7 linked regions of the Homo sapiens genome follow. The protein of the gene in region 2 purifies or fractionates together with the protein of the main gene of each other region. This does not show direct contact. Each region holds a gene or a part of one and is shown on either strand. Other genes may lie near its edges. The genes, in order: STAP1, SCPEP1, ITIH2, HHIPL1, SLC26A6, C15orf39 and ZNF507.

The links.
Region 1: the proteins of SCPEP1 (region 2) and STAP1 purify together in Homo sapiens (affinity purification with mass spectrometry; one large-scale study listed by BioGRID and IntAct). This does not show direct contact.
Region 3: the proteins of SCPEP1 (region 2) and ITIH2 purify together in Homo sapiens (affinity purification with mass spectrometry; one large-scale study listed by BioGRID and IntAct). This does not show direct contact.
Region 4: the proteins of SCPEP1 (region 2) and HHIPL1 purify together in Homo sapiens (co-immunoprecipitation; one large-scale study listed by IntAct). This does not show direct contact.
Region 5: the proteins of SCPEP1 (region 2) and SLC26A6 purify together in Homo sapiens (affinity purification with mass spectrometry; one large-scale study listed by BioGRID and IntAct). This does not show direct contact.
Region 6: the proteins of SCPEP1 (region 2) and C15orf39 purify together in Homo sapiens (affinity purification with mass spectrometry; one large-scale study listed by BioGRID and IntAct). This does not show direct contact.
Region 7: the proteins of SCPEP1 (region 2) and ZNF507 purify together in Homo sapiens (affinity purification with mass spectrometry; one large-scale study listed by BioGRID and IntAct). This does not show direct contact.

The regions. Positions count from the first base shown.
Region 1 is NC_000004.12:67,603,335-67,607,978, reverse strand, and holds the end of STAP1 (signal-transducing adaptor protein 1), read right to left. Parts: intron 1,684-4,644; coding exon 1,622-1,683; 3' UTR 642-1,621; downstream 1-641. UniProt on the Homo sapiens protein: In BCR signaling, appears to function as a docking protein acting downstream of TEC and participates in a positive feedback loop by increasing the activity of TEC.
Region 2 is NC_000017.11:56,984,375-56,988,407, forward strand, and holds part of SCPEP1 (retinoid-inducible serine carboxypeptidase precursor), read left to right. Parts: intron 1-1,003; coding exon 1,004-1,093; intron 1,094-3,320; coding exon 3,321-3,476; intron 3,477-3,841; coding exon 3,842-3,916; intron 3,917-4,033. UniProt on the Homo sapiens protein: May be involved in vascular wall and kidney homeostasis.
Region 3 is NC_000010.11:7,706,316-7,709,815, forward strand, and holds part of ITIH2 (inter-alpha-trypsin inhibitor heavy chain H2 precursor), read left to right. Parts: intron 1-885; coding exon 886-918; intron 919-2,706; coding exon 2,707-2,876; intron 2,877-3,500. UniProt on the Homo sapiens protein: May act as a carrier of hyaluronan in serum or as a binding protein between hyaluronan and other matrix protein, including those on cell surfaces in tissues to regulate the localization, synthesis and degradation of hyaluronan which are essential to cells undergoing biological processes.
Region 4 is NC_000014.9:99,643,375-99,648,128, forward strand, and holds the start of HHIPL1 (HHIP-like protein 1 isoform a precursor), read left to right. Parts: upstream 1-1,754; 5' UTR 1,755-1,833; coding exon 1,834-2,088; intron 2,089-2,314; exon of another isoform or gene 2,315-2,481; intron 2,482-4,754.
Region 5 is NC_000003.12:48,625,103-48,629,135, forward strand, and holds the end of SLC26A6 (solute carrier family 26 member 6), read right to left. Parts: intron 3,613-4,033; coding exon 3,520-3,612; intron 3,440-3,519; coding exon 3,332-3,439; coding exon of another isoform or gene 3,313-3,331; intron 2,937-3,312; coding exon 2,844-2,936; intron 1,971-2,843; coding exon of another isoform or gene 1,954-1,970; coding exon 1,774-1,953; intron 1,584-1,773; coding exon 1,529-1,583; intron 1,253-1,528; coding exon 1,116-1,252; intron 899-1,115; coding exon 884-898; 3' UTR 621-883; downstream 1-620. UniProt on the Homo sapiens protein: Apical membrane anion-exchanger with wide epithelial distribution that plays a role as a component of the pH buffering system for maintaining acid-base homeostasis.
Region 6 is NC_000015.10:75,200,249-75,204,871, reverse strand, and holds the start of C15orf39 (uncharacterized protein C15orf39), read right to left. Parts: upstream 2,991-4,623; 5' UTR 2,813-2,990; intron 1-2,812.
Region 7 is NC_000019.10:32,344,265-32,348,781, reverse strand, and holds the start of ZNF507 (zinc finger protein 507), read right to left. Parts: upstream 3,173-4,517; 5' UTR 2,999-3,172; intron 1,538-2,998; 5' UTR 1,444-1,537; intron 1,298-1,443; exon of another isoform or gene 1,152-1,297; intron 1-1,151. UniProt on the Homo sapiens protein: May be involved in transcriptional regulation.

The sequences.
Region 1 (4,644 bases), on a different chromosome or scaffold from region 2:
CTATATTTTGACCAACTCAATTGTAAAACCCTTGAGAATAATACATATGTGCTGCTTTTATAATTTTTACATTAACAGTGATTTATATAAATACTCAATACATTTCAATAAATACTTAACATTAATGCTCAGGCTTTATGTCCCAATTTTTTTTTTAGACAAAAAGTAAACATTGGGTCATATTTATTATACACTTTTTTGTCAGGTTTAAACTAAAATACAATCTCATTTGAAATTTAATAAAGTATTTTCACACTCCAGAAATTAAAAGATCAAAATGACATAGAGAAAAGCATTTCTCAATGTTTTCATTTGTCATATTTATGATTCCTTATTAATTGTCACTGCCTCTCCATTTAAAAGAAAGCCTGACTTGATTTTGCATATATTGCTACACAGATTATTTATCTTCATATTATAGTAGATCTTAAAGAACTGGTTCTCAAATTTGTTATGTATAGCAATTACCTGTGTTGTATGCTTAAAAGGCAGATTTCTGGACCAGCCTCAGCGCCGCCCCCCCACCCCCAAAATTATAATTCAGTAAGTCTGAGAGAACTCTTCATATTTTCAGGCATCCCAGGAAGCTCACTGAATTAGTTCGGTAGGATTGTCATTACAAATACCACAGACCATGTGGATTAAGGAACACAAATTTATTTTCTCACAAGTCAAGAAGCCGGATTTTCAAGGTTTTGGCCAGGTTGATCTTTTTTTCCCCCCGAGGCCTCTCTCCTTGAGTTGTCAATGGCTGTTTTCTCCCTCTGTCTCACATAGTCTTTCCCCTGTAGAATATAGACCATATCTTTTCATTCTTAGTTGATTGTGTGATTCCCAAATTGATAACCATCAAAATCAATTTAGAAGTTTGCTTTTGAAGAAAAAAATTATGAAAAAATATCCCTGTTATTTTGATTCAGTAGATGCAGTCTGGGGCTGATGGTTCCATATTTTTAAGAACTCCAGGTACTTATAATCAGGCTCATCGTACTTACGACAAGATGATGATACAGCCTTTCACCATCTTTGTAAGGAAATAATGGGCTGATTTTGAGTGGCAAAAAGATGACACCAGGGAAAAACATGGGAATGAAGACATTTATTTCCATTAACAAAAAATGTGGTATATAATATTTCCATTGGAAAAGGGCTCCTCTAGTACATTTCATGTCTCTAACTTCCAGCTAGGTAATTAAAATGACATATTTGATAAATTGGTCAAATCAGATTTCAGCAAAACTTAGGTTTTTTGGGAATTGGTAAAATTTAGAACTAGAGAAACTGCTGTTGGAATTATATAGGGGAAATGTATTTCATTGAGGCCTAAAGAAAAAAATTCCATCTAGAAAGTACTATGTGTTTTCAACTTATGTCAGTGCATGGGAATGTGTATATCTGCAGGTTACCACCACAGCCGTAGTCTCTAGTTTCCCTGTGAATTGGTTTCATTCTGATAAGATAATGAAATTGTATGGTACAATGTTTAATTCTAATTCTGGTGTTCAGGTGAATGACTTGGTAATCAGTATCAGGAGAATATAGGTAATTCTCTTTAAAAGTAAGAACTTCGTTTTGAAAATATAAATTACCAAGATATACAAAGGAGCTTTCACATTGTATTTCATGCAATGTGTGGATTTTTCTTCAACTTTTCACTTCTCCCTTCCATACTGGGTTCTTGACCTAGAAATTGTGGGTAGAAAAACTTAATTAGCGAACCAATATTGTAGAAAACGGTGGTTCTTTATTTTCAGTGAGTTGATTTTCCTGCTCGTGTGTGGAACATTGCTGGTGTGTTTAGTAATTGTTAGGAAAATAAATACTGAATATTCAGATGCTTTTTTAAATTTTATTTTATCCTGGACCTGTAACTTTGTACCTAATAATTTTTTTCTTCCTCTTTAGCTTAATAGGCCTTATATTTTGAAGCGGCTTTTAGTTTAAACTGCTAATTTCTGGAGTTGGGAAATATCTTTGACCATTCTTGTTCCATTATTGCTCTTGTCTTCTGGTGTAAGAGAGAGCCAAATGCTGACATGGGTTAACAGGGATCAAAAAAATCTTATTTTCTTTTAGATAATATTTTATTACATATTAGCTTTTTCCAAATCTCCAGATTGGAACCCTTACCTGCTCTACAACTCCCATTTCCCAAGTTTGATGTACTAGCAGTCTCACTGTGCCACAGCCAGCTATGAGTCCAAATTCCTGAAGCAATGTTAGGGTTCCACAAAGTTTTCTTAAAATATCAGCATTATTTGTCAAGATAAGTTTTTATCTTTGTGTAGCTTTTCTTAAAAAGTCCTATTTTCATTGTCATGTACTTTTCCATCATTTTTCTGCTTTTGAAAGAAAATACGTTACACTACAGATAATATTCTAATTATTTAAAGTCTTTCTTCACAGGACCCTCTAATTCCATCTGTTCTTATGTCATTCCCCAGTCCCTATAACAAAGGCATCTGAAATGCAGGGGGAGGCTGAGTAGTTTGTTCCCGACCACAAAGCAAACTGAACACATTCAGTCATATACCAATAGCAATCTGGTTGTCTGTTTCTAAAATCCTTAAGGTGCTTTTTTTTTTTTTTTGTATTGTCTATTTTTTCTTCCCTGGCCCTGCCCTGAGGGTGGGGCCCCTAGTCAAGGTGCAGTACTTTGGCAGTGACAGCATGGGCACCTAAAACCCCAAGAGAAAATTTAGCCTTCCAGCCAGAGAAATCAGGAAAGGTGGGCAGAGGGGAGAATTGGAATTACATTTTTCTCTTTCTTATCTCTAACTTTCTTGGAGAGATTGGGCAACTGCAGTCTCACAGAACTGCAATTACAGCACAGGTGTCATTAATAAGCTCCATCATTCTAGCTAGAACACCAGGAAAAAGGACCCTTGGCGGCTCGAGAGTATGGAGAAATCCCAGAGAGGTGACAGCTGGAAAAGAGTTATTTCCTAGTTCTGTGTATGAAGTGACACAAATTCCAGGCTCACCTCTGAATTGTGCATGCACAGAACCAGATACAAAACAGATGGCAAAGGCGTTGACAGCTAAACTAAGGCATAAACCACAACCAAGTCCCAGGCTGAATACAGACCCAAAACAGCATAACAGAAGCTTTGAAAACTGAACCAATATTGGAATGGCTTCCCACAGAAAGTAAGAGAGAACTGGTTCAATCTAATCAAGATGGTTGCCTGCTTTTAAAAAATGCACCAGAGAATTTTAACAGGACCCAGAGGCTCACAACATAATATTCAAAATGTCCAAGACACAATTCAGAATTACTTGATATATGAAAAACCAGGAATTACTTGATATACAAAAGAAGGAATTTGACCAATTCCCCAGTTTTCAAGGGAAAAGACAATGGATGCCAACACTAAGATAACCAAGATGTTGAAATTATCAGATGAAGACCTTAAAGCAGCTATGCTTCATGAGGTGGTCATAAACATTCTTGAAATGAATATAAAGATAGATGTTCTCAACAAAGAAAAGCTATAAAAACCCAATGGAGAGAGGAGGTGGAGCAAGATGGCCAAATAGAACCCTCCAGCTATCAGCCCCCACCACCACAGGAACACCAAATTAAACAACTGTCTACACTAGAAAGCACCTTAATAAGAACCAAAAATCCGGTGAGCAATTACAGTACTTGGTTTTAACATCATAGCAAGGAAAGAGACACTGAAGAGGGTAGGAAAAATAGTCTTGAATTGCCAACCTGGTCTCTTCCCCCATCTCCCAGCAGTGGCTGCTCGTGCAGAGAGAGAATCTGTGTGCTTAGGAAAAGAAGTAGACAGTGACTGTGGCACTTTGCATTGTAACTCAGTGCTACTTGTCACAGTAGAAAGCAACACAGGGCAGAATTCAGCCAGGACCACAGAAGGGAGCATTTAGACCAGCTCTTGCCAGAGAGAAATCATCCATCCCAGTGGGCAGAATCTGAGCTCTGACTAGTCTCAACACCACAGGCTAAAGTGATCTAGGGTTCGAAATAAATTTGAAAGGCAGTTTAGGCCACAAACACTGAGGGTCCTGGGCAAGTCCTGTGCTGTGCTGGGCTTGGAGCCAGTGGACATGTAGTGCACATGACCTAGTGAGACACCAGCTGGGGTGACCAGGGGAGTGCTTGTGGCACCCCTCCCCCAATCTCAGGCAGCACAACTCCAGGAAAGACTCCTCCTTTCTGCTTGAGTAGAGAAGAGGGGAGCATAAACTTGGAAAGCAACTCAGTTGGAAAGCAGCTCACCCACAGTAGAACAGGGCATCAGGCAGAGTCATGAGGCCTCCATTTCAGGCCCTAGCTTCTGGGCATTTCTAGACACGCCCTGGGCCAGAAGGGAATCTACTGCTTTGAAGGGAAGGACTCAGTCCTGGCAGTATTCATCACCTACTGACTAAAGCATGCTTGAGCCTTGAATAAACATCAACAGTAGCCAAGCAGTACTTGCTGTGGGCCTTGGGTTGAGACCCAGAGCTGTGCTGGCTTCAGGTATGACCCAGCACATTCCTAGCTGTGGTGGCCATAGGGAGAGACTTTTGCTTAAGGAAAGGAAAGGGAAGAGTAAAGGAGACTTTGTCTTGCAGCTTGGGAACCAGTTTGGCCACAGTGGGGTAGAACACCAAGCAGGGCCTTGTGGTTCCCAA
Region 2 (4,033 bases):
GAAAAAGCACTGACCATCTTTTCCCCTGACCACCTCCCAAAGAGCCTCCTCTTGTCTCAATTAGAAAGCCCACCCAACCTGTCCTATTTGCCTCTTAGTTTCTTTTTTCTCTGAAGCCCTCAGAGCCCATAGAACTGCCCCCAACACCGAGCTGTGGTTCAGAATCCTGCCTTTCCCTCTCCCATGGATGCTCACAGTATCAAACTCTCCCTGCCCTGGGACTTTAGAAACTGCTGCATTATATCCACAGAATCTGCTTGATCAAACTGCTTCTAAGTCTGGGTCCCTTATCAATCCACAGGGACTCTGAAGAGTCTCCCATCTCCTGGGGAGAGGGTGATGGAGGAAGAGTCAGAAGGCCCAGTGTCTAGTCCGGTTAGAGCTCCTTCAGGTCAGCAAGGCCTACGGCAGGCCAAGGCTCCAGCTCAGAAAATCAGGAGGCAGCTGGGTGTGATGGCTCACACCTGTAATCCCAGCACTTTGGGAGGCTGAGGCGGGAGGATTGCTTGAGCCCAGGAGTTTGAGACCAGCCTGGGCAACATGGTGAAACCTCACCTCTACAAAAAATACAAAAATTAGCCGGGCTGGGCATGGTGGTGTGCGCCTATAGTTCCAACTACTTGAGGGGGCTGAGGCGGGAGGATCACTTGAACCCCAGAGGTAGAAGCTGTGGTGAGCCGAGATTGCACCACTGCACTCCAACCTGGGTGACAAAGTTAGACTCTGTCTGAAAAGAAAAGAAAAGAAAAGAAAAAATCAGGAGTCAGGAACATTCCATTGTGGACCTCTTAGCTCAGCTCTGCTCCTTTCAGAGAAAAACCTCAGCAGTTACTAGGGGAGCTTTGCTAATGTGGAAGTCCCTGGTTCACTAGAGAAATTGTGTCTTTTGTGCAAATTGACCCAGCCATCACTAACTCATAAACCATCTATAGCAAATGTGGTCATTCATTGTAAAGACTAAGATCTGACTAAAATTTTTGTTTGTTTCTTCTCTCTTCCATAGGGCGGTCCAGGCGGTTCTAGCACTGGATTTGGAAACTTTGAGGAAATTGGGCCCCTTGACAGTGATCTCAAACCACGGAAAACCACCTGGGTACAGTGAGGACAGTCCTGAGCTAAACCTTGCCCCGTGGCCTCTCAGAGGCCCTGCCCAACTCTGGGAGGGGCCACAAATGTAGCAATCCCTCGCTGTCCTTTTCCTTTTCCTGTGACTACTGAGGCCATGGGCACTTGTCCGCAGGCTTCCTCTCTGGCCTAGCTTCTCTCCCATTTCTCAGGACAGCTTATCTTGCACCAGTCTGCCTCGCCTTCTCCAAAACAACCCCTCTCTCCAGCTGCCTTCAAAAACCTACTACAGCAGACACCTGGGACCCTGTGTTATGCACGCTGGCCATCTCCGCGGCCTCAGACACCATGGTTGCACCCTCCAGCCACAGCCCCCAGTCCTTTTCTCTCTCTCCTATCCTCCTACTTGTATCTTGACTTCCCCTTTCAATGTCTCTCTTGCTGCCCTTCTCACACCTCCCCCTCATTCTTATCGTCTCTTCCTTCCCTCACCCCTCTGTGGTCAACTCCCATATCCTTCTCCCTTTACAGCCTTGCCAAACCCAGCCTTGGGTCACTCCCACTGTCCACCTGCTTAGCCCTTACGCCCAGGCTGCCCATGGGCAGAACTGCACACCCACCCTGGGGCTGCTGCACAGCGTGGGCCCCACTCAGGGCTTGTGGCTGTTCCTCTCTCTGTGCTCCCACTCTCCCGGCTGCACCTATTGCTATGAATGTTCTCCACTTTCCTCAGTGCTCCTCCTCCAGCCTCCCTCTCGCATTAGAAGCTAAGCTTTCTGCTCTTTTTTTTTTTTTTTGGAAATGGAATGTCCCTCCGTCACCAAGGCTAGAGTGCAGTGGCACGATCTCAGCTCACTGCAACCTCTGCCTCCTGGATTCAAGCGATTCTCCTGCCTCAGCCTCCCGAGTAGCTGGGATTATAGGCATGCGCCAGCACGCCCGGCTAATTTTTGTATTTTTAGGAGAGACGGGGTTTTACCATGCTGGTCAGGCTGGTCTTAAACTCTTGACCTCGTGATCCACCTGCCTCAGCTTCCCAAAGTGCTGGGATTACAGGTGTGAGCCACTGTGCCCGGCCACTTTCTGGTCTTTCTTTGTTTTTTTTTTTCTGTTTTTTTGTTTTTGAGACAGAGTCTCGCTCTTTCGCCCAGGCCAGAGTGCAGTGGCGCTATCTCGGCTCGCTGCAAGCTCCGCCTCCCGGGTTCACACCATTCTCCTGCCTCAGCCTCCTGAGTAGCTGGGACTACAGGCGCCCGCCACTGCGCCTGGCTAATTTTTTGTATTTTTAGTAGAGGTGGGATTTCACCATGTTAGCCAGGATGGTCTCGATCTCCTGACCTCGTGATCCTCCCACCTCAGCCTCCCAAAGTGCTGGGATTACAGGCGTGAGCCACCGTGCGCGGCCTCTGGTCTTTCTTAAGTGCTTCCTACTCTTGCCTCAGGGTCTTTGTACATGCTGTCCTCTTGGCCTGGGCCTTTCCTGTGCTTGGTTCCAACAGAAGTCTCACTTCCAGGAGTGGTTGTAGAGTCATCCCCTACCTCCACTCCCCACCCCCATTGTCCCCAAGCCTCCTAGAACTAAAAGGGCCATATGAGTGAGGACCATGGTCCCAGTCCTGATGCTGCCACTGCCTGTCCGATCTTGTGACCTTAGGCACATTCTGGGCTCTTTCTGGGCTTTAATTTCCTCATCAGCAAGGGACATGGCTGGACTGTGTCATTATTCAGGATCTTTTATATGTAAATTTTATAACTTTCAACCTCTTTGGAAAAGGTATTAGAATAAATTCTGCTCTTGCAGTGTACAGAGAAGCCAGGACAATGTGGAAATTTGATGCATTTCCAAGAAAACTGATGTGTGTCCAGACTTTGAGTGTCCTCTGGCTTCTTCGAGTTAGTGCATAGACTGTCTCTGCATGCTTCTTTCTGCGCTAGTTTATTACATTTAGTACATTTGTATTGTATGAAAAGCAACAGCCCAGATTATTTGATCCCCGTGTGTGTTAATCTTTCCTTCCTGCCTCTCCCTTTTTTTTTTTTTGCGGCGGCGGGGGCGGTTGGCCTTTCTTTGTTTTTGTTTTTTTTTCTATGTTCCTGTCCCTTATTTTTAAAAATCTCTTTTAGCAACAGGGATATCATCACCACGCTGGTATCCTCACATGTGTGGGTTTTGCTGAGCTAGTAGAAAATGATCCAAAGATGATTGGTGACCAAATGTCTGATTGCAACATTTCGTTTTCCTCCGTGGTACATAGCTCCAGGCTGCCAGTCTCCTATTTGTGGATAATCCCGTGGGCACTGGGTTCAGTTATGTGAATGGTAGTGGTGCCTATGCCAAGGACCTGGCTATGGTGGCTTCAGACATGATGGTTCTCCTGAAGACCTTCTTCAGTTGCCACAAAGAATTCCAGGTAAGCAAAGACTCAGGAACAGCTAAGTAAAGGGCTGGCAATATCAACTCTACATCCATCAGCATAAACCTGAACTGCCTCCAGAGTTTAATGCCTAGCTGATTTCAGAGAAAACTTTTTAATTCCCAAGATTGGGTTGTGGACTTTTGTTTCTGTCATCTCTAAAGTTGATATTTAACTTGAAAGAATGACCTTGGAGTGAGCATTCTAATCAGACGCAATAATCAGATATGGAGTGGTGGGGGAGGAAGACAAAGCAGATTTGTTTTTTCTGGTCATTACGTGCAATAGAAATTTGAAATTAATTTGTGTGACTCAAAAAGCAATCAAGGTAGTTAATTCTGTGTAATTCCTTTTCTTGCTAGACAGTTCCATTCTACATTTTCTCAGAGTCCTATGGAGGAAAAATGGCAGCTGGCATTGGTCTAGAGCTTTATAAGGTAATGGAAAATAACTTTGTTGTTATGGTTTTGGACAGAAAATCAATTATGTTACTTTTATGTACTCACGTGCTATTAAATATACTTTGAATAGGGCCATGTACATGCAGAGTACGA
Region 3 (3,500 bases), on a different chromosome or scaffold from region 2:
AACACCCGACTTCTTGGATCTATTATTAACAGCTCACCAAACATTACATGTTCACCCACCACCCTTAAGCCATTCACTTTCAAAGGCAAGGGAATCGCCTTTGTTCATTTCCTCAGGACAGTCAAGTGTATGGATAATCTCCTAGCATGGTGGTTAAAAGCATAGAATTTTCTAGGTGCCAGTCACTGTGTTTGCCTCAGGGGTTACACTGTGGAGGAAATACATGAAAATCCCTGCTTTTATGTAGCTTAGTTTAAAGGAAGAGACAGACTTTAGTCAAATAATCCCTCAAATAGAATGAATCATTATGAAACAAGGTGAGCACTCTGCAGGAAGGAATATGCTGCTGCAAAAACACTTAGTAAAGGAAACCGACCTAGTCTTGGGGTGTTAGAGATTTTCACTGGAGGAATTCTGCTGGAGCTGAGATCTGAAGGGTGAGTAGGAGTTCTCCATATGGGGGTTGAGGAACCTAGCAGGGGCACTGCAAACAGTGGGAACAGCATGCCCACAGCCTCATGGCCGAATGGAGGATCAAAGTCTCCATTCAACTGAGTAAAAAATAGAGCAAATAGCATCAAGGGGATATACGCTACCCAGGATGCATTTGGTTGAATATTTTTATTTAAAAATTACTTGTTCTAGCATTATATCCAAGAATGACACACACGCCACCAGAACTGGTTGAGAAACTTATTGAGAAACTCACCAGTGGGAAAATAGTTTTCAAGAATATTCAATATTTATGTCTCAACTCCAGTGAATGAATAACAGCTCAGTATTGAAGAAAAATAAAATTTCTTTTTTGACTGAGAAAACGGTTTTGGCTCTCAAGGTAATAAGTGACATACAGTTGAAGAATGATTGTCTAACTTCCTTTCACAGAGAAGCCTTCCAGGAGAATCGGAAGAAATGATGGTAAGTTGACTTGATGTTGTTACAGATTGAATGATTTTCCTGTTAATAATTACCAGGAAATCAATCTGGGTGTCTCTTTTTTCTTCATCACCGAGTATTTACCTGACTTTCGAAATACTGCCTTGCCCAACTGTTTGCAAGTGTTTCTAAAATTCAGCATTGAAGAGTGCAGTCTTTACAGACAGGAGAGAGGCCACCAAGAGCTGAAGGGGCCCTTCTCTTCATTTTCTTGAGTTTTGCCATATATCATAGGTTCCTTCCCACTGTATAAATTTATGTATTTATTCCTACTCAACCTTTTTGATTTATGTATTTATTTTTACGTTTTCATTTTTATTTTTATTTTTTTGAGACAGAGTTTCACTTTTGTTGCCCAGGCTGGAGTGCAATGGCATGATCTCAGCTCACTGCAACCTCTGCCCCCTGGGTTCAAGAGATTCTCTGCCTCAGCCTCTCAAGTAGCTGGGATTACAGGCATATGTCTCCTCGCCCAGCTAATTTTTGTGTTTTTAGTAGAGATGGGGTTTCACCATGTTGGCCAGGCTGGTCTCGAACTCCTGACCTCGGGTGATCCACCTCCCTCAGCCTCCCAAAGTGCTGGGATTACAGGCATGAGCCATTGCTTCCAGCACCATTTTGATTTAAAGTATGACACCTGACAGCTTTGGAAAATAAAAGAGTGCCCGTGGAAAGGAACTTTTAAACACAAAACGGCCCAGTTCCCTGAGATGTTCAGAGTAGACCATCCTGTGGCAAGAAAACAGCCTGAGGACAAGTGGCTTATGTTGTGCTTCCTGCCCTGAATTGGCAGAAACTGCCAGAAGTGCACACTTCAGGGGGAGGAAGGACACATAGATTAGCCTGGATTTTATTTTAGCTTGAGGTGAGTTGCATGGTTAATTAGTCGAAAGGTTTAATGTTGGACTACAAAGTTTGGGGAATGAGACCTGGTATTGAGATAAGTAAATTCTTTTGGAGAAAAAAGCAAAATCTAATGGGTCTCATAGTTGTCCATAGACCTGAAGGAGCTTGCAGCTCTCAGTCACCTCCTGAAAGGTGTGGGTTTCTAGGACCTTGCCTTTGAGCACACTTACATATGTGATTCTTCACACAGGAGCTGCTTTAAATCAGTAGTGATCGGGTAAGGAGGTCCAGAGTGTTGGACCAATACTTGCATCAGAATGCCCTGTCCAAGATCAATGTCTCTTGCTTACACCCGTCACTGTTCTCCTAGCTTGTTTTGACTTGGGGGAGGAGAAAAGGACTGCAGATGAAATTGTAATAGAGGAGATTAAAGAAGGTAGAGAGCTGTAAGGGGGGGTTGGTGGAGGCCATATGTGTGTTTCCACCCCACAGCACCCCTGTGTGACCCCTACTAAAGATACAACCAAGTTCCTCTTTCAACCTCGCAATCCAGTATCCTCTCCCCAGCTGATGGTCTTGCATTTGGAGTTATTACCTGGACTTCCTCAATCCAATCTGGCTTCCCACACCGTTTTCTACTTGTATTCTAATTTTTGAAAAATCATTATTTATAGACTCATAGGGCTGAAAAATGCCTTTTAGCTCAAAGTATCTTGAAACCAAGGCAGACTTCTGCTCATTGCGGGTTCCAAGAAGTTAGGAGAATGCTTAACCATACATGAATTCTGTCCTTACCAAGGCCCTGGAATTGTTCTGCTAGTAAAACAAGTAAAATGTAGTGTTGTTAACATCAAATGCACTACATTTGATGAAGTTCTGTGTGATTTTTCTATCAGTACAGTTATGCTTTCTTGCCAATTTCAGGAAGAGGTTGATCAAGTAACTCTTTATAGCTATAAAGTCCAGTCTACTATTACTTCTCGGATGGCCACCACCATGATCCAGAGCAAAGTGGTGAACAATTCCCCGCAGCCTCAGAATGTCGTGTTTGATGTTCAGATCCCCAAAGGAGCATTCATTTCCAACTTCTCCATGTGAGTAACTTCTGTGTAGAGCCAGAAATTGTAGGTGCTCTACTCACAGAATCAAAACCCCTCATAGTTAGAATGGACTTTAGTGGTCAACTGTCCCAGAGGACCGGCTGGATGTCAAGGGTCATTGTGAGGTTGGTCCCAATAATTTTCTCCTCTTCAAAGCGTTAGAACTTGTGAATTATTTGCTTTTTGTTTCTAATAAGCTAAAGCAAACTTAAGGCTATCTCTGTGGTAACAACCTCATACTTACTTGCATTTTAATATACTTTCTAGGGAGGAGAAAAATATACTGGGTTGCCCTGGCTTATAGGAAACCACATAAGAGCGTGTGCACAGCAGGTCAATGCCATCTGCCATATGTTTCTCTATGGGAAAAAAAAAACAAGTTGAGAACCACAGATTAAATCTAATTACTTATCCAGTGCTTGACCTCCTCTATAACACCGCTGACAAGTGTGTGATGATTTCCTTGATGATAAACTCACTTTTCCCAAGGCAATCAACTCAGTGATTGACAGCTCTGTTAAGAGTCCTTTCTTATACTTCAAATATTTTCCACTTTCTACCCAATGACTCTAGTGATAATCACATAGAATTTTTAAAAAGCTCTCTACAAAATACATA
Region 4 (4,754 bases), on a different chromosome or scaffold from region 2:
TTGTTGTTTTTCTGGAAAGCCAATCAGGATGTACTAGATAACAGAAACCGAGGTAAATAGGTATTAGGGTGAGGATTTATGTTACTCTGGCTGGGGCTGGGCTGTGTTTGACATTTTCTGTGGCTGTAGGAGCCCAAACCTCATGGCTGTGGCCCAGGCTCTGTGTCACTTCCACCTCTGTACACTCATCTGGAGCCCTGTGTTGATGTGTGACTATCACCCAGTTCTGAGTCCCAGCTGGGAAGTAGGCGCCATCGTGCCCTCCGATTCCATCCTGGCTCTGCCTATTCCCAGCTGTCTGTGCAGGAAGCCGTTGCAGGCCGCATTTCCCACCCTAGCAGCCCTCTGCTAGGTTCAGCCAATGAAAGCCACAGGTGGGAGTTGGAGGGGAAGTGGCAGGGAGAAGCCGGGGTATTTCTCCTCCTCTGTCTGTGCAGAATCTCTGACAGTGGCTATCTCCAGCTGTGGCCAGACAGGCCTTGTGAGGGTCCAGCTTTGACAAGGTGACCATAGCTCCTTGGCTCCAGTAACATCTGCTCTTCCTGCATCAAGGACCTGGGGACTGTTCCTACTGTTGCTGATCTCAAGGTTACTTCACTGAGCCCTGTATGGCTTCTTAGCCTCTTTGGCTTCAAGTCCCTGCGTTAAATTCCCCGTGTTTCAAATACTCAGAGATGTTTGGCTGTGCGGAGACCCTGACTCTTACACTGCACCTGTTCAGGCCAGAGCCACAGACCTCTGAGTGCTCCAGCCCTGCCGCATCTCATCCACCCCCAGCTCTGCCAGGAGCATGGGCCCAAAGACAGAAACATGATCCCCCAGGACAGTCCAAAGAGACCTGCAGAGGACGGATGTGTGCGTTGGGGCCATGAAGATGGAGTAGGAGCTCACTGGACAGAGAAGATGGGGAAGGACACTCCAGGGAGAAGCAAACGCTGAGGTCCACTTGAGAAAAATGCCTGGGTGGTTTTGGTGCTGTGAGATTCTAGGGTAGGTGAGACAGTGTGTGTGTGTTTGTCTGTGTGGGTGGTTTTGGTGCCATGAGATTCTGGGGTAGGTAAGACAGCGTGTGTGCGTCTGTATGTGTGTGGGGGGGTGGGGCGGGGTTGGGTCTGAATCTCCAGCGGGGGCAGCGGAACAAAGGGCTGGATGCCCATCCCAGGAGGTAGATTCATCAGTGCTCCCTATGCGAGAGTGGAAGTGGGGAGCCCCAGTGGGTCCTGGGCTGCAGGAGAATCCGCTGCCCCAGGAGCAGAGACTGGGAAGAAGCCCACAGTAAGGGCAAAGGGTGGACTGCGGAGACTGCTCCGTCCTCCCTCCCCACCCCTACGCCAGGTTTCACTTCTCCCTGAGAGTCCTGGGGCAACACCCCCTGTTCTTTCCCTCGCACCCCCATTTTTAAAATGTTACGTGGGAGCTTTCGGGGACGGGCTGCGGGCATCCGTTTCCCTAGCCCAGTGGGAGGTGGAACCGAAGCCCAGGAGTCCAGGCCTCTGGCCCTGCGCCTCCCTGGCTAAAGAGCGCCCTGTGGGGAGGAAGCAGGGCCCCAGGCGGAACCGGGAAAACACACCGGGGCTTTAAACAGACCGGGCCACTCCCATCGAATTTGGAAAGCGGTTAAAAGAGGTCGTGCCGCATTCTGCGCCGCGTCCCTCTTCCTTCAGTCCCGCCGAGTGTCCCCGACCAGAGGTGACCTCCTAGAAGGGGAGGTCCCCAAACTCGAGGCCCTGCGTGTAGGGAAGGGGAGCGCCCGCCCCTTCCCTGCCGCCGCGAGCGCCCCGGGAGGGGACCGGGGCTGCCGTCCCTCCGCCTCTTCCCCCGCGGGGCGTAGCGATGGCCCGGGCCAGGGCCGGGGCGCTGCTGGCGCTTTGGGTGCTCGGGGCCGCCGCGCATCCGCAGTGCCTGGACTTCAGGCCGCCCTTCCGGCCGACGCAGCCGCTGCGCCTCTGCGCGCAGTACTCGGACTTCGGCTGCTGCGATGAGGGGCGCGACGCCGAGCTGACCCGCCGCTTCTGGGCCCTGGCGAGCCGCGTGGACGCCGCCGAGTGGGCCGCGTGCGCCGGCTACGCGAGGGACCTGCTGTGCCAGGTGAGCGGGCGCGCGGCCACCGGGCGGGGCGGGGCGCGGGAGGCCGAGTCCTGGAGCAGAGATCGGAACCCCGCGGGGGCGAGGGCCAAGAGTGGGCGGCGGACTCGGGAACTCTAAGCCCCAACAGGGAGTCATTTGGCACGGGGCGGGGAGACCGCGCATCCCAGGACGACTCTTGGCTTTGCCATTCATTAGTTTTGTGACTTGGGCCTTCTCGGGGCCTCAGTTTCCCCTCCTGAAGCAGGAAGGACGGACGGACGGACAGATGATGTCATCATTTCCTCAGAGGTTGGGGGCTCTTCTGCCCCAGTCCCCTGGAGTCGACCCCTCAGCGTCCCACCCCGAGCAGCTGCACCCTTGTCGGGGTACCAAGGTGGAGAGGCATCTGTCCCGGTCAGTGCTCCTTTGTGTTGTCCCCGGGGCAGTGAAAGCAGGGGGCCCTGGCGTGGGCGTGGTCAACGTGTGGCCCGGGTTTGTTGAGGGGGTTGGGGCCACTGTCCCCCACGAGCGTCTCACCCCCATCCTGATGCCCTTGCCACTTCCGCCACCACCTCTGTGGGTGCTGTGCCCTCTCCTGGGGATGGCGCCCTGGCCTGCAGAAGCTCTCTCAAGACTGAGCGACAGCTCTTTGTTGAAGCCCCTGGGCCCCCCATCTTCCCTCTGAGGGTGGAGCCCCTGCTTCTGTGCACACCTGGTGGTGCCACCGCTATTTGTTTTCCTCTTGTGGGAGTCTGAGGCCCCAGGGCCTGACCACACCCAAGTGGGCAAATGTTGCCTGGCTGAATGCAGAAATGGAGCAGGACGGGCAGCCCCAAGGCATTCCTGCCTCAGCATCTGGGCAGTGAGAGGCCTGGGGTGGAGAGGCCCCAGGGGCCAGGGCCGTGTCCCAGCCTTCGGCCAGCAGGGGCAGGTGGTGTGGGGAAGGGCAAGAAGGCTGACTTGGAGTTGGAGTTTGATCCTGGCTCTGTCACTTCCCCAGCTTCGTGACCTGGGCAGGTCACTGCTGCACCTCACAATATCTTTAAAATGAAGCTGAGTATGGTGGCTTATGCCTGTAATCCCAGCACTTTGGGAGGCCAAGGTGGGCAGATCACTTGAGGTCAGGAGTTCGAGACCAGCCTGGCCAACATGGCGAAACTCCATCTCTACAAAAATACAAAAATTAACTGGGCATGTTGGGGAGCTCCTGTAATCCCAGCTACTCGGGAGGCTGAGGCAGGAGAAGCACTTGACTCTGGGAGGCAGAGGTTGCAGTGAGCCAAGATTGAGCCACTGCACCCCAGCCTGGGCAACAGAGCAAGACTCCGTCTCAAAAATATAATATAATATAATATGATATGATATGATATGATATGATATGATATGATATGATATAATATAATATAATATAATATAATATGATATAATATGATACATAAAATAAATAAAATAAAACCTTAACCACCCCCCTGGGTGGCCATGCAGATTAAATGCCACATACTAGGGGCTCGGTAAGTGTTTGCAGTTGGATTTCTCGAGGGCTTCCTTGGCCCTCACTGGCTGCCCAGCCCTGGGAAGGGTCCAGGTGAGGCTTGGAGCCCGAATCAAGGAAGACTCAGAGGCAGGCAGGGACTTGCCCAGTGGTCGCACAGCCCAGCGGTGGTTGAGGTGGGGACATGGACCACACTCGCTGAAGCGAGCTCATATCTTAGGTGGGAAGCAGTAGACTCTGGGAGGATGAGGAGGGGGCCCTGGGGAGCTCCAGAATGCAACAGAGGGTGGGCTGGCCACCTTTAGGTGGGCTCTGCTGGACTCCCATGCTGTACACCTCAAGGGCACGGGAATGGTCTGGCCAAGCGTCTGCCTCCCTCACCAGCCTGGGGGCTCCTCAGGACCAGGTCCTTTGGTCTCCCTACCCCCATCACATAGCAGAGTTCCTGCATCCATGCCACATTTGTCTATTGAGCACTTGCTATGTGCCAGGCTCAGCACGGCAGTGAGGTGGGCAGGTGGATGGAGGAAGGGAAGGGTCAGTCCTGATGCTGTCCCCTGGCAGGTTTCTTGGGAAACTTCCCAGGACAGCCTGGCTTTAAGCAACCAGCAGTTAGCAGGAGTGACCACTAACACTTCAGCCCAGGCGTCTCTGAGAGTGACCTCATGTCTGGAGTGAGCTTAGAGACGGCGGCTGAGGCTGGGTTATGGTTTCACTGACGGGGCCTCCTGGAGCATGCTGGCGGGAGGACCATGCTCTCTGCTAGCCAAGGCAGAGTCTGCATTTGGCACCTCCTGATTTCCACACGGGGAGGTGGTGGAGGTGCCTTATTCATAGGTCTCTGTCAGTGTGGAGGCACTCAGGCCTTCACACCTGCTTTGGGGGGATGGGAGACTCTTTCCTGAGGCTTTGCTTGTCCAGTAAGTGCCTGTGTCCTCTGGAGGAGAGAGGACAGCCATGGCACGTGGCATCCCCAGTGCATCTGGTGTGAGCTTCCACATCGCTAACCTCCCCTGTGACTGGGGTTGCCTCTCTAAGCCACTAAAATCATCAAAGCATGGTTTCTGATGGAGATCTCCATGAAATGTATTCTATGGGCTCATGTATTCAGCAGGCTCTTCCTGAGCCTGTTAGGAGGCAGCCCTGTGCTGGATGCTGGGCCCAAAAACAGTTGGCAAGTCACAGGCCCAGTCTC
Region 5 (4,033 bases), on a different chromosome or scaffold from region 2:
TCTGGGCTCATTGCAACCTCTGCCTCCCAAGTTCAAGCGATTCTCATGCCTCAGCTTCCCGAGTAGCTGGGATTACAGGCATGTATCACCACGCCCGACTAACTTTTGTATTTTTAGTAGAGGTGGGATTTCACCATGTTGGCCAGGATGTTCTTGAACTCCTGATGTCAAGTGATCCACCTGCCTCTGCTTCCCAAAGTGCTGGGATTACAGGTGTGAACCACCGTGCCCGGCCCGGTCATGCTTATTCTTAAGCATAGAGCAGCAGTGTGGGGGAACAGCTGCTCCTAGGTGTTCACTCTGTATCCTCCAGGGACTGCCCATTGGCACCCACGCTGCCCTGTACCTTCTCGGGTATTCCTGAGAGCAAATTATTCCTGAGAAGCAGCTCTGGTTCCAACTGTTTCACATCTGAGGAGACAGCGAGTGAGGGCTATGCATGGCTGGGGAGAGACCTTAACAGGGGATGCCTCCACAGCTCCCCTGCTCTGTACCCTAACCTCCCGAGTCCTTCCTACACCTTCTGCCCCGTCTCACCTTCAGGGCACAGGAAGGGTCAGCAGCCACAGCTGTGGACCACCCACCACCAGGGCCCCACCAAGCCACAGCAGAGACTGGAGTTGAGCAGACAAATCTTTATTCCTGAGGCTAAAATATGCACCAGTTCCCTCCCTGTACCGCGCCACTGCCAGCCTGACTGCATGCAGGCCCTGTCCCAGACCTGGAGCGCTGAACTTGGAGTCCCAGGACCTCCTTCCCTGAGTTGTGTGTGTGTACATGGAGGGGACTCCTGGGTAGCACCTGGAGGCGGCCTAGGGGTGAGGGGCTTCTCAAGGGTGCCCTGCACCTCCAGAGGTGCAGTCTTGGGCAGGATGTAGCATGTTCAGAGTCTGGTGACCTGAGCAGGCAGAGGAGGGGAGGCTCTAGTCAGTTTCCAAAGGACACAGACCAACCCCCGCCCCTAGAACAGCTTTATCCAAAGACAGCGGAGAAAGCACTGGGCCCACTGGGGACAGAGCCATGGCCACCAGGAAAGACTCCCTGGAGCTGGGGCCAGGGTGGGGACAAGCAATAGATTAACAAAAAAGAGCTTGGCAGGCCAGAGGTAGGCTCACCGAAACAGGGCTGTCGGGGACAGGCCTCGGGTGTTGGAGGGCAAAGGTGACAGCATCATGGACAGAGGCAAAGAGATGCTTCTTGGTGATGGATGCATCGAAGAAGTGCCCAGCCTCAAGCTGGCTGACCACAGGGCCTGTGGGCAAGAAGTAGGCCTCCCCTGACTCTCAGAACCTCTAGGAACTCAACTCCCGGGAGCCAACAGAATGCCCTGACCTCATCACCCCTGACCTCCACCCCTGAGGCTACAGCTGAATCCACATCACTTGTAACCCTGGACTCCTGTCTCCCAGGACACCTCTGACCTCCAGTTCCAGAGAAAGACTTTTTCCTTGTGCTACTTGGAAAACCCCTTGGCCAAAAGTATCCTACCCTCTTCCCAGGTCCCTCCTGCTGTTCCCACCCTACTCACTGTGGCAGGCCGCCATGTACACCTCCACCTCAATCTCCCGGAAGTCATGGAAAATCTGTAGCGGAAAAGGGGGCCAGCCTCAGAGGGAGGCTCAGGGACTCAGAGGGGGGCTCGGGCAGGCTTGGGGAGGGAGTTTAGAAGGGGAGCTTTGAGGGTTTGGGGAGTCAGAGGCTGGGAGTGCTCTCAGGGCAAATTACAGGGTCAGTGTGGAAGCTCGAGGGGCCTTGGCCTGCCCCCGTCCTTACATTCTTCAGGCTCTTGAGGCACACAGTGTCCACAAAGGAGAGGGCACCCAGGTCCAGGATGAGGCTGTGGAAGTCTGGCTGAGGCAGGCCCAGGGCCTTCAGTGTGGACCCATCTGGGGCCTTGGAGTCTTCTTGACCATTGGCTGTTGCATCTTCCATCTTATCTCCTGAGCTCACCTGCTGGGGAGCCAGACATGCTGCCAGGGCCACCCATGAGAGAGTGAAGGCAGGACTGGCCGCACACAGACACGCGAGAACACGCAAGGTCAGATGGGGAGCATGCATGGGACACATAAGGACACAAACATGCGGGAGTCACATAGGTGTGCAAAGACAGGAATGACAGATGTGTGGGGACATGCAGGAGGGCACACCCAGATGTGCATATACTGCTCTGCTACCTCCTGGGCCGACGCTGCACAGGGACACGAGAAGGGAGTCCCTGTCCCATTCTCATCAGCCAGGGCTGAGTGGGGAGGGGGCCCAGGAGCAGGCCAGAATAGACACGGGCATCCACATGAAACGCATGCAGACACCTCGGCACCCTGCCCTGTCTCAGTCTCTAATTAAGTTTGGCATCCTCTTTGACCCCTCAATTTTTTTTTTAGAGACGGGGTCTCGCTTCATTGCCCAGGCTGAATGCAGTGGTTATTCACAGGCACCATTAGAGCGCACTGCAGCCCCGAGCTCCTGGGCTCAAATGATTTTCCCGCCTTAGCCTCCCGAAGAGCTGGGACTACAGGCGCGTACCACCACGCCTGCCTTTGACCCCTTGATTTTCTCCCATATACCCCATCCCTTTCCTCTACCCATGAGCAGACTCTGGGGGAAGTCTTGTGGGATCTACAAATTCAAGGTCTTCATCTAGGCCTGAGAATCTAAGCCTAGATTCTGTGGCATATCACGACGCTCCCTGAAGAATATCTGACCCAGCCTCCCCACTCCTCCTGCCATCGGCGCAACACCCTCGAGCCCACAGCTGCTGGGTCCATGGCATTCCTCATGAGACATGTGGATCCTGCATCTCTGCAGCTCACAGCTGTCACCTCCTTTCCCACCTCCAGTCTCACCATCATCTTGCAGTCCTCAACGTTGTTGCTCCTCATGTCTTCAAGGCTGGTGTTGACATTAATGGAAACTGAGGCGCCCTTGGGGGAGGCAGCCTACACCAGGGAAGACAGGGAATGGGAAACAGCTAGCCCGGCTGCCATGACAGCCATGTCACATAGGCCTGGTGATGCCCCCTGGTGCTGGGCAGGTGGGTGGGCCAGGACCAGAAGCTGTGGGACCTGCAGCAGCCAGGCTGAAGCTCCTGGAACAGCCGTGAAAGGGAAGAGGACTGTGACGGTTCTCACTGTCACTGGTTCAGATGATGGGAGAGAAAATGCTGCCTAGAGCCCGGACCTGCTAGGGGAGTGAAGCAGGGTCCCTGGGAGCATGAGGGAGAAAGGGGAAGGGATGAGGAGTGAGGACGAGGGAGGAGTCGGGGGCCAGGAGAAAGGCTGGGGCAGGGAACAGGGGGCAGGAGATGGGGGTCACCAGACAAAAGGGGCCCTGCCTGTTTCCGAAGCTTCTCCTCTTTCTGCAGTTGCTTCAGCTTCAGCTGCTCCTGCTTCTTGAGCAGTTTCTTCTTCTGGGAGATGAGGAAGTCGACATCCACACCACACTGGAGGCAAACATCAGAGAAGGGTTGGTGAGCTCTCTGGGAGCTGGGGCCTGACACCCATCCTGGGGACTCCGTCTCACCCTCTGCTTCAGCGCATCACTGTAGAACTCAGCATTGGCAAAGTACACGGTGGCCGAGGAGCGGAAGACCTTCACCCCCCGGACTTCCTTGGCCTGGGGATGAGGCAGAACTGGTGGTGGCTGAATCTCCTCTCTCCTGGCTGCATCCTGTTCTCCTGCCTTTCCTTCCCTAGTGTGCCCAGTGCCTGCCACCGCCCAGCCCTCTGCTCCCCAGGCTGCAGTCCAGGCCCTCCCAGGGGCTTAGGCCACAAGCCCGACGGTGTCATCCCCATCCCCCCACAGTGCCTCTCCCTCCCCACCTCTCCTGCCACCACCCAGGCAGGCTTCACAGGCTCTTAACCTTTCTCTTGGGTTTCCAACCCCTGCCTTGTGTTCTGTTTTCTGCACCCAGACAGAGGTCCTCCTAGGCTGTCATATCAATCAGACCTTCCCCGCTCCCACCCCATTCGGGTCACAGCCCGGGTCTCTGCTGGGCTCCAGGCATGCATGGTAAGGGCTGGGCTGCCCCCTCATC
Region 6 (4,623 bases), on a different chromosome or scaffold from region 2:
TAGGCACATGGCAGGGTGGGGCCAAGACAGCGTCAGGGGCGTGTGTGAAAGTCCAGGGAGGTGGCTAGGTGCTGTGGCTCACACCTGTAATCCCAGCACTTTGGGAAGCCGAGGTGTGCGGATCATTTGAGGTCAGGAGTTCAAGACCAACCTGACCAACATGGTGAAACGCTGTCTCTACTAAAAATACAAAAAAATTAGCCAGGCATGGTTGTGCATGCCTGTAATCCCAGCTACGCTGAAGGCTGAGGCAGGAGAATTGCGTGAACTCAGGAGGCAGAGGTTGCAGTGAGCCAAGATTGTGCTACTGCACTTCCAGCCTGGGCAGCAGAGTGAGACTCCACCTCAAAAAAACACAAAAAACAAAAAACAAAACAAAAAAAAAGAAAAGAAAAGAAAAGAAAAAAGTCCAGGGAGGGAGGCCCCAGGGGCCAGAGTGCTACTTAGCCACTACTCCCATTGTATTGATGGAAAAACTATGTGCTGAAAAAAGACAAAGCTCTAAGACAAGACCAAGGAAGGATGGGGACTGAGGCCCCTCAGGGCAGCAGGCACCCAGTAACCCGTTAGGGGCTCATCTGAAGCCTGTCTTCTGGGGCCACACTGACCTACCTCTACCTCCCCCAGCCAGCACCCTATTCCTGGAAACTCTCAGTAGCTTAGAAAGGACCACCTAGCTCAATCTTGCTATGATTAGGGCAAAGTGTCACAGGTTTCAGTGACTGGCAAGCAAGGACCAGCCCTCTCCTTGCCTCTTCTGGTTGGAGCCAATGACAGCCACAGGCTGAGTTAGACCGGCACATTTTGGGGTTAGAAAACACAAGGCTAGTGTGGGGGCCAATGCCCACTTCCACCAAGGCAGACCCAGAAAGCAAGCTGGTTCATCTCCTGGACAGAACCCCACACCTCAGGCCAGCCTAGAGAAGACACAGAGGGGCCATTAGGACACAGGTGACAGTCCCAACAGCAGTGTCCTATGATAGAAACCTGCTATCGAGGGGTGAAAGCCCCCATCTCACTCCACAGCAATGCTGTGAGAAGGAACTGTAGGGTTTTGAAGTGTGGATCCTCCCCACCTCCACCCTTGGGACACTCTGGGTTAAGTACTGACTTTGGTCTCACCTCCCCCACATGCTTCTTGGGGTCTGCTGGGTCCCCACCCCCACCCCAGGAGTCCCTCTCTCCTGGGTCTCAGCCCATGGAATACCCTTTGCTCTGGAGACTTCTTGAGGCCCCTATCTGGGACCCAGTCAATAGACAGGAAACCACCTGGGACCCTCAGGAGTCTTTGTGGGAGGGGTGGCGGCTTCAGGGAGCCAACAGAGAACTCTTAGGGGTGTGGGAATGACCTGATCTCCTGCCAGTAGGAGGTGGAAAGCCCAGGATACACTCTCTCAAGGGAGACGACTCCTCCACTCAAGACAGTTGCCAAAATGTAGGTGCCTCCTTCCCTGACCCATACTGAGGCAAGCAAGCTCTCGGAAAGGGCAGGTGCCCAGGGAGCAGGCTCAGATCATCCTTGAGAGGCAGCTCTGTTGATCCTCTCTGCCAAGCTCCAACGTCACTCAGCCAGCACCCAGGCCAGGGTCCCGGAGAAGAGCCCACCACCGCAGCACCGCCCCTGCCTTACGCAGTGGGAAAGGAAACAGCTCTCTGTTCCCACTTTCACCTTCTAGGGGCCTCGGGATGGCCGATGGCAAAGACCAGGAAGAAGAGCGCGATTCCTGCCCAATTGTGGCCAGCATCTGGATTCTCCCGGAGGGCTGGATCGGGCCTCGCCGAGTGTTCTCCCATCTCCCACCTTCCCTACCTGAGGCTCTGGGCTCTCCAGACGCTACAACCCAACCTGGGGCAGCCCAAAGTCTCCAGTGGAGGGGAAAGCGAACGGGATCGGTCTCTATCCCCTTTCCCCTACCCGCCCTGAACATAACTCGGGTGCCTAGGGCCCACAGCCGATTTCGCTTAGAGGCTGCCGCCGCACCCGACCTGGCGGGCTTCCGGGTGTCCCCAAGCCCCTCCCGGCGGCGCCGAGACGCACGTGCATCCAGCAGGCTGACACACAGGCCGCCGCCACGCATGCAAACCCGTGCCTGCACGTACGTGCATGGCCCACATCTGCACACACGCCATTCCAGAACTGCGCTCTCCCCTCGCTCGGGCCCCGGGCATACGTGTGCACGCAGGCAGGCCCGCGCACCCAGCCCCACACCGACGCCCGCGGACCGGCGGGAGGTCCCGGAACAGGGGCGGCCCGGCGACAGGGTCCGGGCAGCCTCCGCCTCAGGGCGATCCTGCCAGCCTGGGCTGAGGCCAGAGGGGTGAGTCAAGAGGTGGCGAGAAAACCGCAGGGCCGTCCCATCCCAGCAGGGCGCGTCCAGGGCCCCGCGGTGCCTCAGCGCCCGGCGCCCCCAGGCCCAGCCCTCCAGTGCCCCCTTGTCCCCATACCTCCTCCTCAACGCCATCCCCCAGCAATCCACGTGACAGGGTCCTGCGGGAGGCCGGAGGGCTCGGCCTGAGTTCCTTCTCGCCAGATTAGGCGCCTGTTCTCCGCCGGAGACCCAGAGCGCTACCAGGTCCCGGGAGCCTCGAAGTCCGGGGAAAGTCGGAGCAGCAGCGCCACCCCTGCCCCGCAGCCCGTTCGCGGGGGGCCGGCGGCAGCCAGAAGCCGCAGCCCCTCGGCCCAGGCGCGGCTCCCTCAGTCCCCGGGCCGGCCGGTAGGGGCGCCCTGGGGCAGCGCCACCCGCCCCTTCTCCACGCGCCGCCCGCAAACTCGGCCCAAGTTTCCGCGCCCGCCGAGCGGGCGAGCTCCTACCTGCAGAGCGCCAGGACTCCCGCCGCCGCTACCCCAGGCGGCCTCCGCGTCCGCATCCTCCAGCGTCTCTCAGGCCGCGGGTCCTAGTCCGACCGGGCCCTGCGCGGGAAGTCGCAGTGAGCACCAAGCCCGGAGCAACCCTCCTAGCTGCCGTTCGCGCCGCCGCTGGGCGCCGTCTGCGGTCCCGGGCGGGGCGGGCTGGGGGCGGGGCGGGGGCGGGGCGACTCGCAGGGTTGGGGAAGAGCCCGGCCCCGCCTCTGGGAGCCTGCGCTCCTGTGGGCAGCGGGTGCGGAGGGCCCGCGTGGGGCCAGCTCGCTAGGAGCGGGCTGCGGGCGCTGTGCACCGCCCGTAACCGCCACGCTCCACGAACCAGTGCCCGGCGGGCCCGTCACGCGCCCTCAGTCGCTCCCTTAGATCGTTCATTCACTGCCACTTGCTGCGATGTGACCTTGCGCCTGCCGCTTGACCTCGCTGAGCTTCAGTTTCCTTATTTGCAAAAGTGGAATTCTGTCTTCCTCATAGCGGTGGCGGTGTAAGCTTGGAAAAGGGTGTTTGCAAATATCTGGCACACAGTAGGTGCCGGCATTCCCCTGTCCAGCACTAGTGTATTAGGGGGCTGGAGAAGGGCTCCTTGATCTGTCCCCTCATTTCGTTGTAGTCAATGAGGGCAATTTCCAGACTCCTGCTAGGGCACGGCAACTGTCTGAGGAAGCGGCAATCTCCCCATCCCTGGAAGGGCCGGGAATGAGGGTGCTGGGGGATTTGCAAAGTAGCCTGGGTGAGGCTCCCTCCATGAGGCAGACCGGCGCGCAGCCTGTGAGGCGGGTGGAGTGGAGCACGCCCAGCCAGGAATGGTGTGTTGCAAAGAGAGGCTGGAGGGGGGAAGGGGTGCCTCTCCCTGGACCATCTGACTGTGGATGAGAGCCCCTCAGTGCTGCTACTTTATCTGAAGGAATCTGGTCCGTCAAAGCTCCTGGGCTGCCCGAGGACTGGGAACAGGTGTGTGCAGTGGGGAAGGGGAGGGCAGGTGGACATGCCAAAGGTCAGAGTCAGTTCAGGAAGCAAAACTATCCCCTCAGATCCCAAAGGTAAGTTCTGCCTGAGTCAGAGCAGAGCAGGCCTGAGGCTGCAGGTTCCAAGAATCACCAAGCAGCTGGAGCAGCTGGAGCTGAGGAGGAGGGGCTGGGCGCTGCAGGTAGGAAGAGGAAGTGAGGTCACCTGGGGAGCGGGGGCGGGAGGTGGGGGGAGAGTGTCACTTCATTTAGAGCTGGAAGGACCTTAGAAATAGAGTCGGGAACCATATAGGGAGAGACACTCAGAGAGGGTTGGGGCTTTCCCCAGGTCACTCAGCAGGCTGGGACAAAATCCCAGATCTCCTGGCTCCCAGCCTGGGGCCCTTCCTGCAGCCACACCTTAGCGTCAGGAAAATACATCTGCGCGCGGACAGCTAGGGGTCACACCAAACATCATACCCTTAACCCCAGCCTGCAGCCCCGTGGGTCACAGGCTATTCACTGCTCTTGCCCCTTACCAACTCTGCTCGCCCCTCCTCCTCCAGCACCGCGCCGGCGACCCTGTCCCTGCCCTGCTAGTGGGGTGGAAGGAGGGCTGTGTTCTTAGCCCTTGGGGTCTAGGACGCTCAGGTTGTGTGCTCAGATGTGCCCAGTGGTCTCTCCAATTTCCCTGAGTTGGAATGGGACCCAACCAGGCCAGGATGAGCAGCCATCTGAGACAATAGGGGCTAGTTAAGATTTGCAGCACTGCTGAGCCTTGTGTTAATTCAGGGACACCTCACACAGACAGCAGCCCCA
Region 7 (4,517 bases), on a different chromosome or scaffold from region 2:
AAAGAAGACGACAGGCATTAGCAAAACAGGAGATTTCTTGTTTGTAATGTTTAGACATAACAACATTAAATATATTAAATTGTTACCAATAAATAAGTAATAAACAAAAGTTGTATCCCAAACCAGAAAAGTTCTATAACCCTTTCCACCAACTCTCTCAAATCTTTCCTTGACAACAGTATTCCACAGGCAAATGCTTCTAATTAATATCTTTCTCACAAAAAGTTAGGAGCCAAATTATTTCAGTTGTCTTTATTTCCTTATAATTTGCTATTTGGTTATTTGGGTATCTAATTAGTTCTTTATAATTACAGTAGTATGGTCATCATGAGTAAAATCAAGTTGAACAATTCATGTGGGCCTGGAGAAAAGGCTGTAATTTTCTGTGTTTATATGAAGAAAAGTACAATATGATACAAAAGAACCTTCTCTTTCAGAACAAGAATTTGTTTTTTCCAAAATGGGAAAAAAAAAAAAATTGTGCTATAAAAGTAATGGCCAATAAATTCCCCATTCTTCCAGATTATTGTAATTCTAAAATATGACAAATTTATTTTGCTCCAGCCAAAAGAAGGCAGGGGACATAAGCTCAAGGGTCCCTCCCCTAAAGTGCCCTCAATTAGCTGTGTGACCTTAGGCAAGTCACTGTCTCTGTGAGTTTTAGATTGCTCAGATGTAAAACAAGAGGGTGAAGCTAGATGAACTTTCAGGTCCCTGAATTATAAACTGTCTATAAAGTTACCTGGAAACTGCTTACACATTATTTATAGATTTACCTCACTATATTGGCTACAATTTATTTGATTTAAAATCTTCTGAGCCCAAGGTAATTATTAATTACCACTAAGAAAAAAATGAGTATAAATATCACAAGTATATGGAGTTTCATAGTCTAGAGTTTCTTAGTTGGCACATAGCCTGAGAGAATATTCTAATTTGGCAGCTGCAATGAAGACATAAGGTCTAACTAACATTAACCAATATTCAGATTTACTGTCATTTATTGAGCACCTATAATGTGCCAACCAGAATGCTGGGGACTACAAAAATGACTGAGGAAATCCTTGCCCATGAGGTGCAAGTCTAGGGAGTAATGCCTCTGTAGATTTTGTGTAATATTCAAATTTTGTGTATTTTTTTTTTTTTTGCAGATGAGAAACCTGAGACTCACAGACACAAAGTGGTAACTGGTTTAAGAACAGGAATCCAGGCCAATCTCACTCTAAAACCATGCTTTCTCTAATACACCAATTTTCATCTTAATTCTCAATGAGAATAAAAATGTACAAAATATCAATACTGAAAAGAGTAACAGCTCCTTACAGCTAGGCTCTATCAAACATGTTAGTGGTATCTGATCCTCATAACTCTTTAGGACAGGCTAGGTGGGTGTTATACAGTCTTATAAATAAGGAAACACTCAGTGTGGTTTAAGTGACTTACCCAAGGTTACATGGCTGTTAAGTGGCAGAGCCAGTGTCTTTCAAATCAATTCCTGAAATTAATACAGTCCCTTGGATCAATCTTCAAAATCCAGCTGTGGCCAAGAACGAAAGTATATAGTATCAAAACATTTCTCTTTCTTGGTGAAACAAAGTAATGATTTTTTTTTTGGCAGTGAAAAATTTCTCAATATTCCATGTAAAAAGAAATTCAGAGGAATGTTCATGCAACCCTATTACGTAATGCAAATTTAAATAATTTATCTAACAAGCCGACTTGAGGATTTTGCAGAAGTTAGGAAAAAATAGCTCTGGAAACTTCTCCCAATAATTGTGTATTTTGTTTTACCTCAGAATTTAGGTACTGGACTCAACACTATTGGTTTTACTGACAACATTTTCTAATGAGAATGGAACAATAAATTGCACATTGCTATTTTAATCTAAACTAAAAATACAATCTAACGAGTGATTCTGCAACCAAGCACAATAGGCAGAAAAACAGCATAAAAAGATATGACACAGTGGTGTGACCTATATATCTTCTAACGCAGTTTCCTACTCTGGTCCTACATTTCTTTGCCACTGTTTCTTATACTGGCTGGAATAAATCTAAAAGATAAAAAAATGCTTATTCGTTTCACCTAGAATGCAACTACCTTATCGATTACGGTTAAGTAAAATAGCTCACTGCCAGGGCAGAAAAAACATCTTTAGGGCTCCCCTGAAGTTAATTTTCAACGAGTTAGTGAGGTAAAGGAATGAAGGGCCAGGCTTTCTTTTAATCAATAATGCAACCCATACTCTGAGTGAGAGGGGAGTACTGGAGAAAGTGCAAACTCAAAGAGGTGATAAATCCAGTAATTGCCTGAGAAGAGCGATGCAGACTGATAGCAAATTACAGCCCACTGCAGAAACTTAAAAATACCGCCTTGGGGTTGGGAAAGTGGCCGCCACCTTATTAATCATCCCGGCCTTCTACACAAACCATTCATTCCGATGCCCCCAGGTCTTAAGAGGTGGGAACTTTCCCTGATGGTCTCCGTGATCTCTGGAGACATCATTCTATCTCCAGAGGATGGTAATAAATGCAGAAGACCAGGGCTGCGTTTCTGTAGTAGCTTTTTCTACACCACGCACTGGCTAAAGGACTGAGGTGATGGGTCGGGAATGAGGGAGCTTAGAAAATTAATCAAAAGATGCTGTGAGAACATCGTGGCTGGGTCCATCCCGGCTGGCCTAAGCGATCTCACATTTGCAGAAAGAAGCAACGCCTGGAGAAGGAAGCAACGCCTGCGGGCGGGCCGGGCTGGTGACAGTATGCAGGGAGCAGCAAGTTCCCCCCACCCCCAGCTGCAGGGCAAGCCCAGAGTCTCCGCAGGCCTTGCTGCACAGAAGACAGAACCGGGACACGGAACTTGGGGCTTGTGGCTAGCACCGGGCGGGGGTCGGCCGGCTGAGGAGGAAGCGAGCGCCGGCAGAGGCCTGAGGGGAGGATGCACATGGCCGGCGGCGGCGCTAACAGCGGGCGGAGGGGCGGCCCCGGGGCGCGGTACCTGCGGTCAGGCGGCGGCTGCTGCTTCCGCGAGCCTCGTTTGGCCAGCCAGGACCCGGCCGTGCCCTCGCCCTCGTCCTTGCCCACCTCTCTCCCGGCTCTTTTCCCTCTTTTCCCCCGGTTTCCCCCTCCTCATCCGGAGCTCCAAAATGGCGGCGCTGGGGACGGATCACGTGAGCCGCGGGTGGGTCAGGTGACCCGAATGGCGGGCAGCGGGGGCGGGGCGAGGCTCAGGCCCCGCCTACCGGCGTCCCGGGCCGCCGAGGCTGGACCCGCGAGAGGGAGGCTCCCCAGCCGGTTTAGCCCCTTGCAAACCCTGGCTCCCGGGCGGGGTTCGGGCCCAGTTGTCTGGCTCTCATGGCCCCTTCCAGACGTCTAGATTTAGAAGTCACCGTGTATTCACTTTGGCATCTCCCCACGTCGCCTAAATCCGCTGTGGGCTAGCCTTATCACCCCACTCACCCCGCAATTGGCTTTCAACAATGGGCATTGGGGTTTTTTTTTTTTTTTTCTTTAGCCTTGTGCTTCTGGATTTGTATTAGTTCCTTTGGTAGGACTGTACATTTCAAGGTGTTCTTGGCTAAAATATAGAGGTCCTAGCCAGATTCGCAGCTTGGCGTTAAGGGGTGCCTGTTAAGGGCCAGAGCTGGCCCTGGGGAATCTCTTTGCTTGAGAGATTCAGGATTTTCAGGGTTTGTAGGACCAGACCCAGTAACACAAGCTCAGCCCTCCGAGGGCACGATGGTGTTTGTCATTCGGATCTGTTCTATGAAAGATACTAGGGTGGTTCTCCTGCTAACAGTGAAAAACGGACTAAGTGAAGCATTCCAGCCAATTTCACCAAAAATGCTGGATAGTTTTGCCGTATTAGGAACTACGCAGCATGGTGCTTGGGTCTGGACTCCGGGTGAGCGGTGGGCATGAGCAAGGGTGTAAAACTGAAGATTCTGGCCATTGTAGTGGAATGGACTCATTTGGTGAGATACCTCTTGGGGATCTGTTCCAGATCTTTTTAGAGGCCTTTACAGCTGGCTGGGCTGTCCACGGTCCTGGGAGGAAGATCCAACAAAATTTAGAATCAGACAGGCTGATAATTCCTGTTACTGTATTTCAGAATTCAAATTCATCTGAATTTGGGGGTTAGGAAACCAGCAAAGTTAGAATTTTTATTTTTATTTTTATTTTATTTTTTTGAGTCAGAGTCTCACTCTCTCCCCAGGCTGGAGTGCAGGGGCGCAATCTCGGCTCACTGCAACCTCCACCTCCCAGGTTCAAGTGATTCTCCTGCCTCAGCCTCCCGAGTAGCTGGCACTACAGGGCGTGCCACCATGCCCAGCTAATTTTTTTGTATTTTTAGTAGAGACGGGGTTTCACCATGTTGGCCAGGATGGTCTCGATCTCTTGACATCATGATCCGCCCGCCTCAGCCTCCCAAAGTGCTGGGGTTACCGGCGTGAGCCACCGCGCCCGGCTGCAAAGTTAGAATTCTGCTATTCCACAGAATCCTTTGCCAATTAGAC